Homo sapiens: one gene and its partner. The protein of the gene in region 1 interacts with the protein of each later gene in a pairwise test. Each region holds a gene or a part of one and is shown on either strand. Other genes may lie near its edges.

Region 1 (2,839 bases):
TTGCATGCCCTGAGGCATTGGAACAGCATGGAGGGACAGAGCCAGAAATCAGGAGACCCAAATTCTAGTCTTAGGTTTGCTGATTTCTGGTCACAGTGCCTAAGGCACACTCCAAACATCTGTCACATCAGCTTCCTCACCTGAAAAATGGGACTACACACCCCTTTCTTTGTCTCCCCTACAGGTCTGCATGGGGATTACAGGTGTTTGGCAAGTGGCATGGCAGAACAGAGAATCTAGATTCAGGACCTGGACTTGGATATAAGCTGTCACTTGTTACTTGGCCTTGCACTAAATGACCATTCTCAGGTAAATGGGCAACCACCTGTTTCAGTGTTGTAAGGACTGAGGTAGGTGATCTATGTGAAAGCGTGAGATACGTGCCAGGTATCATGATCAATACATAAGGGTACACAACAAAGAATAAAAGTTCTATATAAATACAAGGCAATATTATTACATAACTCTACCTATTGCATAGTTTTATAAATCATTTTTCCAGGAGTAAAGGCTGAATGGTAACAAAGATATCTTACCTTGGCCAGTTTCTTCATCCTTCTAAAAGTTTTTCATATTCCAATACCTCTGAATTTCTCAAAAAATCAAATTAAGACCTTAGGAATCTTATTTCCACCTCCCCTCTCCCATCACTTTCCCTCTTTGGTCTTCTCAGAATGAGAAGAGCTCCACTATTTCTTCTAAACACCATCCAGAATGTGAGAATGAAACCCAAACTGAGACCCCTGGCTGGACTTGAGCAGAATGACAGCAGAGACAACTGGGGCATGCCTCTAGGCAAGCTTTATTCTTTGACTCCTTCATCCAGGAAGGGGCTGTTAGTTGCATCTCACCCAAATGGAATGCGATGGGAATTGGGGGCTTGAGTTGTTTGGAGAAGGAGCTGTTGATCTTGGCAAATGAATATAGCTGGTGTGTGGTGTCCATCAATCCTTGAGTGCTTGGCCATGGAGACTAGGGAATGGTCAGAACAGACCCAGAGGTCCCCAGATCTTTACAATACCAAGGTTCAGGAGGTATAGACAGTAAGGAAAAAGTCCATTTCCTATTTCTGTCCATTTTCAGTAAAGTTTTTGTTTTGACTGGCTTTTAAAAAATTACCTAGGAAATGGAAAGCTTATAAACATTCGTAAGTGAATTGTTGAACTGCTACCCCAAGTGGTTTCCTTACCCAGTCACCACTTAACCAGAAATATTAGAATACACGGTTCAACCAGAATTCAACCAGGCAGATAACCTGCCTGTTGCTCAAGCAATCATCAGAGTTTTAAAAAACAAAATTAAGCAAAAAAGACCTTTCCCCAAATAGCATCATTACCACTTAGCTTTGTACGACCCATTCCTAGGAAAGCCACATTCCACTTCAGAGAACATGACCGCTTAAGGTACAGTTAAAACAAAGTCCTTGCCTTTAGGTGCTTACTTTTTGTTTTAAATTAGCCTCTGAAATGCTTTTCTTGTGTCTTCTGCTGCATTCCTGAAAACTATAACTTTTAAGGACACAGCCCTCACTTTTATAGAGGAGGAAGAAAACAGCAAAGAGGTGTCTCATTAGGGAGGCAGAAGGTTATGACCAATGCTGGAGGTCTTCCTCTTCCTTACTTGTTATTCAACAAGATGGGTTCTATGGTGTCGCATGAGGTGTGAGTTGGAAATGAAAGCTGCACCACACTTCTCACATTCATAGGGCTTCTCCCCAGTGTGGGTTCTCTGGTGCACGGTGAGGCTCGACCTCTGTCTGAAGGCCTTCCCACACTCATTACATGTGTAAGGTTTTTCTCCATTATGAATTCTCTGATGAATAAGTAGGTATGAGCTACATGTGAAGGCCTTCCCACATTCATTACACACGTAAGGAAGATCTCCACTGTGAATTCTCTGGTGGACAATAAGGCAAGAGAGCTGACTGAAGGCTTTCCCACATTCGCTGCAGTCGTAAGGTTTCTCTGCAGTGTGAATTCTCTGGTGCACAATAAGGTGTGAAAAACAACTAAAGGCTTTCCCACACTCTTTACACTCATATGGCTTCTCACCAGTATGGCTTCGCTGATGTACAATAAGATTTGCACTCTGGGTAAAGGCTTTGCCACAGTCGTTACAGGCAAAGGGCTTCTCCCCAGTGTGGATCCTCTGGTGGACAATGAGGTTTGAGCTCCTAGTAAATGTTTTCCCACATTCATTACATTCATAGCATTTTTCCGTAATGTGGACTTTCTGGTGCCGAGCAAGTTGTGAGCTGTAACTAAAGGCTTTCTCACATTCATTGCACTTAAAAGTTTTTTCTAAGGAGTGGATTTTTTGATGTACAGTCAGATTTGAACTCTGAGTGAAGGCTTTCCCACATTTTGAGCAAACATAAGGTTTCTGTCCAGTGTGGATTCTCTGATGCACAACGAGGTTTGCACTCTGAATGAAGGCCTTCCCACACTCATGACATTCAAAGGGTTTCTCTCCAGTGTGGATTCGCTGATGCACAACGAGGTTTGCACTCTGACTAAATCCTTTCCCACACACGCTACACGTAAAAGGCTTTTGTCCAAGCTGGGTTTTTGGATTTTTAACAGCGCCAGAATTAAGGCTATATTTTCCTCCAGATTTCTTACATTTCTGGTTTTCCTCTTCTTTGAAGCTTTCAGGTAAGTGACAGTCATTCACTATCACTTGTCTGAAATCTTTCTTTTCTCTCTTTATTCTCTGCCTCTTTAACATGTTTCCCTTTTCACAAGCTTCTCCTAACTCAGGTCCTTGAGGATCAGCTTTCTGGATTCTTTCTGATATGATGAGGGGTTTTTCAGCTTCCTCACATATCTCAGTTTTTGGA
Region 2 (7,230 bases), on another chromosome or scaffold:
AAAAAAGGCTAGAATTGCATACTGAGGACAATTGACAAGAGGCTAGACAAATTATGAGATACTATCTGAAAATGTATAAAAGACAAAGGATTGAAAACATAAATAACTTCTATAAATCAGTTAGAAAAAGACAAACAACCCTGGTAGAAAAGTAAGCAAAAAACATAAATGAGCAGCTCCCAGTACAAGAAATCTGAATGACCAAAAAACATGAAAAGACCTCTCTGGTAGCAATCAGATAAATGCGAACAAAAACAATGAAATACCATTTCTCACCCATTTATTAGGCTGATAAAAAAATATATAAAGTTTGACAATTACAGATACTGAGTACTGGAAAAGAAACATATGCTCCTGGTACAGTATAAATTGGAATTCCAGATTACCAGGATTGTGTGATGCCCCTAGGAAAGTCATCAGCTTCAGCACTTCCTTACTTCTCTGGATTCATGCTTTTGCCTCATTTTTTGGTCTCTACAGATTTCCTATTGCTTCCTTACTAGCAAAGTGACAACAATAAAGTATAAAATAAGCATGCTTATTTTACATTATATCCACCAGAATTTCTAGATGTCTTGAAATGGAAGTATTTTCATGGTGTCTAATTCAGTATGTACACTGAAACAAAAATTGAGTGAGTTCACTTTCAATTTAATGATATTAAACTCAATATTCACTCAACTTTATATATGCCCTAGATTTATAAATCTAGTAAACCTTTAAACTCACTTCCTATAGGAAATTTATTTTTCTTAAACTGATGTATTTCATAGTTGTTCTCACTAATTGTATTAAATACTATAAAAAATAAAATGGTATTTTACAAGTTAAACTGCATTTATATAAATGTCTTGTAAGTTTATTAAAGGTAAATTAGAAAGTTAAAGCATTTCAAATATTCTCTTACCTGTTCAAGCGCTTGGTTTTTCTCTTGCTCTATTTTCCTCATAGTTTCCTTTTCAGCTTTGAGTGATGATGATGACACAGTTTTAACAGACATAAAATCAACAGTCATCCACTCATCCCTCTGTTAAAAAAAAAGACATAAAATCAACAGTCATCCACTCATCATTTCAATCTGAACTGATTAGAATTTAATAAACACTTGGTAATAAGAGCAGGGACTTTGGAGGCAATCAAACCTGAAACAAGTCCTACATGGCTATATAACTTGAAGCAAGCTTCTAAATCTCTCTATACTTTAGTCTCTCCTCTATAAAATGGTATAAAATCCCTACCTTTCAGGATTGTTTTAAAGAGTAAACAAGATAACAGATCTAAAGCATCCAGCCCAAAGCCTGGCACACAACAAGCAATCAAACTTAGTTCCTGTTCACCTTTCTTCCTTCACCTGTGGCTAACAGTGGACAAATTACATTCTTCCTGAGGCAGATGAACTATAGCCCAAAATTTTTGAACTATTCAACTGTTAAGTATTGTTAAGAAAATTAAGGCATGAGGTGAAGGGAAAAAAAACTGTGATGGAACTCCACTCACTATAGAAGGGTCAGACAGAGATACAGTATAAGGCTTTAGGGACATAAGGGGAAAGTGCCACTTCTTATCAACAATCAAAAGCATGAAAGCCTCTAAGGAACGAGAATAGAGAGGAACACTCACTTTCTCACAGTAGAAGGGGAAGGGGGTTCTAAACATTCAGCAAACAGCAGTACTGCCAAAATTATTCCTAAAGTATATTGTTTTCAAAGTCTAATTGTTCTCCTGAAGAAATTTTAATCATCTTTCATTTTCATATTCATTTATTCTCAAAAGTTGATACTTTTTTCTTTAAAACCAAGTGATAGGCCAGGTGCAGTGGCTCACGTCTCTAATTCTAGCACTTTGGGAGGCTGAGGTGGAAGGATTGCTCAAGCTCAGGAGTTTGAGACCCAGTCTAGGCAACATAGGGAGACCCCAACTCTACACAAAATAAAAAAATTAGCCAGGCGTGGTGGGCACACAACTGTGGTCCCAGCTACCAGGGAGGTCGAGGTGGGAGGATTACTCGAGCTTGGGAGGTCGAGGGTGCAGAGAGCTCTGATTGTGCCACTGCGGCCCAGCCTGGGCAACAGAGTGAGACCCTGTCTCTAAAATGAATGAAAGAGAGAAAGAGAGAGAGAGAGAGAAAGAGAAAGAAAGAAAGGAAGGAAGGAAGGAAGGAAGGAAGGAAGGAAGGAAGGAAGGAAGGAAGGAAGGAAGGGAGGGAGGGAGGGAGGGAGGGAGGGGGAGGGAGGGAGAGAGGGACAGAGAGGGAGGGAGGGATAGAGAGGGAAGGAGGGAGGGAGGGAGGAAGGAAGGAAGGAAGGAAGAAAGCAAGGAAGGAAAATCAAGTGGCTTGCTTACCTTGATAATTTGGGTGTCATCTTTTCCTGACTTTTCATCTTTCACTTTCCAGGCTTTTTCCTTGTCAGGAGTCTGGGATGGAACAGCCTCAACCCACTCATCTTCAGAGCTCTAAGAACATTTAGCATATAAGTGAAATTGTCAAATTTGCATACTTTGATATAAAAATTCTGTGCTGTTAAGTGGTAGAAATTCAACATCGTAGAAAAAAATTCTTACACTGTATTTCCCCTTTACAAAATGGCAATGAAATTTTAAAGAGCTGGGTGTGGTGGCTCACACCTGTAATCTCAGCACTTTGGGAGGCTGAGGCAGGCATATTACTTGAGGTCAGGAGTACAAGACCAGCCTGGCAAACATGGTGAAACACCATCTCTACTAAAAATACAAAAAAGTTAGCCAAGCGTGGTGGCGCATGCCTGTAATCCCAGCTGCTCAGGAGGCTAAGGCAGGAGAATCGCTTGTACCCAGGAGGCAGAGGTTGCAGTGAGCTAAGATCACACCACTGCACTCCAACCTGGGCCACAGAGACTCCGTCTCAAAAAAAAAAATTTTTTTAAAGAAAAAACATATAAACCCACTAGTTTGAGTTAAGCCCACCAAACACAACCAAATTATTTTTATTTTCTCATCCATTTATTATCAAGCCAAGAGAAGGCAAAAAAACAAAAATGGGAACTGCCAAGTAGAGACCTCACTTCAGCACAGAGCTTCAGTGACTACCAACGTCAAGTAGTTACTCACATCTCTGCTTCACTAGAACAGGGGAAACACCACCCAGGTAAACGAATTTGCTGTTTGCCCCTAAGTTTCACATTTTGAGATTTCCCTTGATCTAAAACTGCAGATAACATTATCTTCTTCAACACCCTCCTGAAGCTTTATACCAATTCCCATATTCTCAGCAAATGATGTCTTCTTTTACCTCATCAAGAAAACTAGGGCCACCTTATCCTCCTACCCACCGCCCAAAACATTTATGGCTGTGCCTATCCTTATTTCCAGTTAACTCCTCCTATTTAAGGCAGATCTTGCTCTAAAGATTTTGATAACTCTTTCTGTTCCTCCAGGACCTTGCTCCATCAATTATCTTCTCCTCTCACGGCATTAACCAAAGATCCCTAATGGCCTAGAAACAATTTCAAGCATTTCCCACCCTTTTTTTTTTTTTTTTAAGGAGGGAAGGGGGACCTTCCTTGACCCCGTATATTCCTCCTCTAGCAGGAATTAATCTTCCGGCTTCCATTCTCAGATGAACTTCTTGAAAGAGTAGTCTACATGCACCGCCTTCACACTCTCACTTTCATACATTTTCTCAAAACTCTACAATACATCTACTGTCCCCATTAATCTACTGAAACTTCTCCAAACTCACCAGTGGCTTCCACTGTGCCGAACTCAACAAAACGTTTCAGTCTTCAGCTCTCTAGACCTCTCTGCTTAATGCAACTCTGTTGATAACTCACTTTCCTGGCTTCCATGACACCTCTCAGCTCTCCTCCCACTCTGTTTCTTCTCCATTTCCTTCATGAACTCTTCCTCCTTTGCTTAGCCCTTAAATATCTTGTTATTTGGGATTCCATTCTTTGCCCATGACATTTTTCAATGTCTAAACATTCCCTTTGGGCCATTAAATCCATTCTGATCGCCTGAACTACAATAAATTGTGCTGATATCTTTCAAATTTGTCTAACCAAAGTTTCACTGACTAATTGTCTACTGCAGTTGGATGGCATGCTAAACTCAGTAAGAACAGAAGATAAAGCTATCCTCTTCTTCTACAAAATCTACTTCTCCTTGTATAGTATTGAACTGAGTTATCTGGAACAACCAACCACCCACTTAAACCAAGTCAGAAACTCAGGATGATGTTACCTCACATATTCAAGCCTACCATTTTCATTTTTAAAATATTTATTAAATATACCATAGAGTGAATACATGATTACCATACGAGCCTACCTCTATCCCTGGCCACTACTGATTAGTTCAAACGTAGGTACCTGACCCAATTCACATCAACCTGAGCCATTCCACAGGAATCTGAAATCAGGTCTAAATGGGCTTATCTAAAACTAAGAAATGGGAAGGCATTGGGAGAGGCCATTTCTGTCATGAGAAATAGAAATCAGCAAAAATTTTTTAAAAACTAGAACTCAGGGTAGGGGAAATGAAAAATGGCAAGAAAATTGCAAAAACCATTCACAATTCTAATTCCAGCTATTCTTGAAGCCTAGCTGCATTCCTACATCTATATGTCTTATGAGAATTTTGTACTTTAATAATAAATCCTTTTTGCAAAATCCAATTTATATTTAGTTTCTGTTACCTGCAACCAAAATACCAACTAATATTCTCTTCTTTGATCCTTAAAGTAGCACCCCAGGCTGGGCGCGGTGGCTCACGCCTGTAATCCCAACACTTTGGGAGGCCGAGGCGGGTGGATCATGAGGTCAGGAGTTCGAGACCAGCCTGGCCAAGATGGTGAAACCCCATCTCTACTAAAAATACAAAAATTAGCCAGATGTGGTGGCGCATGCCTGTACTCCCACCTACTTGAGAGGCTGAGGAAGGAGAGTATCTTGAACCCGGGAGGCGGGGGTTGTGGTGAGCCAAGATCGTGCCATTGCACTCCAGCCTGGGGGACAAGAGCAAAACTCCGCCTTAAAAAAAAAAAAAAAGTAGTAGCCCTAGATCAGATCTTATCTCTCACCTAAACAACTGATTCCAGGAGACCTAATTAATCTCCTGGACTCATCTTTCCTGCTCCCCTTCTTTCTCCAACCCCTCACCCCAAATACATTTAGAGTAATATAAAGGGAACATCTGACCACCGTACTTCTCTTCTAGGGCTTCCCATTACAAAGACTGCTAGTTATCCCTCTTCTTTCCTACCAACAGAATCCCATTTTATTTGGAGAAGTAATGTACTTCCCATGCTAGAAAGTGAAGCCTTATGATCAAGTGTCCAATTAGATGTAAACAAAAGTATTTTATGGGACTTTCTGGAAGTCAAGTTAAGAAAAAAAAGAGCATCTTCTTTCCTGTTATCTGGACTAAGAGGCAATGCTGTAAGGATGATGGAAAAGCAAGACAATAGAAGCCTAGGTCCCAGAAGACCATACTAGCCCTAGACTGTCTACCTGACTTATTTCATATCAGAAAAAAATGAATTTCTATCTTGTATAATCAATGGCTATTCTGAGATTTTCTAATAAATGCAGCTGAACCCAATTAGATGATACATTCCCTACTGAATAAAGTCAAAGCTCTTGGTTTACAAGGCCCTATTAATTCTTACAGTTTCATCTCCATTCACCCCCTCCTCTTGTTTTATAATTTAGTACTATCAAATTGCTTATAGTTATATTTACATACATACACACATACTCACACTCATATTATCTCATACTTCCATGTCTCTGCTCTCGCAATTCCTTATGCATGAAATGCCAAGCACACCTTTATTTGCCTAATGCTTACTAATCTATCTAGTCTCAATTCAAGCATCATTTAATCAACAAGTTAGCAAATGAAATCCCTCTTAATACCCTGTACTACCATGGCATCATGTTGGATGGTATGCTAAACTCAGTAACAACAGAAAATAAAGCCAACATCTTCTTCTACAAAATCTACTACAAAATCATATTATTAATATTATGTATCTATTTATCCAATTAGGAAATGAGTTCCCCAAAGGTTTAAAAATATATTTTTATATTCCCCATGTCTAGAACAGTGTCTGGCAAAGAATAAGCATTTGATAAATGCAAGCTGAAATTAAATGAAATGTCTTTTTCTACTCTTTCAATAGCACTAGTCAGAAACTTTTAAGCAGCAACCTATACTCATTTTCACAATTATGCACTCACTCACCTTACCACTTCAGCAAAATTGATGCTCCCCATGCTACGACTTCAGTTCTCTTGCTAATTTTAGTTTCAATCTCCATTTTACCTTGAACTCATTAACTATCAAGCTTAATACGCCTCCTGACCTAACACAGCCTTCAGGGCTCTCCTTCTCTTGTGCAGCCTGCAGAATTAACCACACCTCTAATTCTATCTAGTGGTCAAAACCTAGAAGGTGGAACTAAGACAGAAAAGTGCTACCAGCAAAACTCAAGGGATCTTGAGGACTTCTGCTTCTGTCCTTGACAAAATAAATGGCATCAAACTAGAAATACATACAAATTGGAATAAAAATGAAACTACAATCTCTACAGCTTTTTATCTAAAGGCACTTTCTAGACTGTGGCATAGAGGGGTAACCCAAGCAGAACATGAAAATCTCACTGAGCAAAGGAAACGGAATTTGAACTTTGTGAAGGCTGAAACAAAAGTACAGATGGGAAGTTACACAGAGAAAGGGTGCCAGAAATCTACTTAAAGGACCCCTGGAGTCTTTAAAGAAAGACCAAGCTGAACATGCTGAGGATGAGAGTCCACAAGGTCAGGCAAAGAAAAATTACCATGGAGAAAACAATTACCAAAGAGCTGTAAGCAGAACAATCCCCAGAGCTCACAAAGGGCTGGAAGACATTCTAGTTCCTCCCAACCAGAATAAAGAAACCTCGCTGAACATCCATGACAATCAGCAGAGAACCCACAAAGGTCATGCCTTAGTAGAAAGGCTAAACCAGTCCTAGAGTAAAGCTATTCTAGGTGCATACGAACAAAACTTAAAAACAATCCTTGAAAAGGATTAAGCTAATTCACAAGTAATTAACTGTATGCCAAAAGGAAACTCAATACTCTCTGAAGAAGTCAACAAAATCCAGCAGTCACAATATAAGTTTCATAGGGTTCAGCATCCAATTAAAAGTTACTAGACATTCAAAGAAGCAAGCAAATGTGACCCATATTCAAGAGAAAAATCATTTAA

Evidence for each region. Proteins that work in one complex are often made in the same cells at the same time.
Region 2: the proteins of ZNF35 (region 1) and CWF19L2 interact in binary tests that used the Homo sapiens proteins (3 or more experiments, as listed by UniProt).

What each region holds. Positions count from the first base shown.
Region 1 is NC_000003.12:44,658,732-44,661,570, reverse strand, and holds the end of ZNF35 (zinc finger protein 35), read right to left. Parts: coding exon 1,624-2,839; 3' UTR 780-1,623; downstream 1-779. UniProt on the Homo sapiens protein: May be involved in transcriptional regulation. Involved in cell differentiation and/or proliferation.
Region 2 is NC_000011.10:107,440,596-107,447,825, forward strand, and holds part of CWF19L2 (CWF19-like protein 2), read right to left. Parts: intron 2,455-7,230; coding exon 2,344-2,454; intron 1,028-2,343; coding exon 908-1,027; intron 1-907.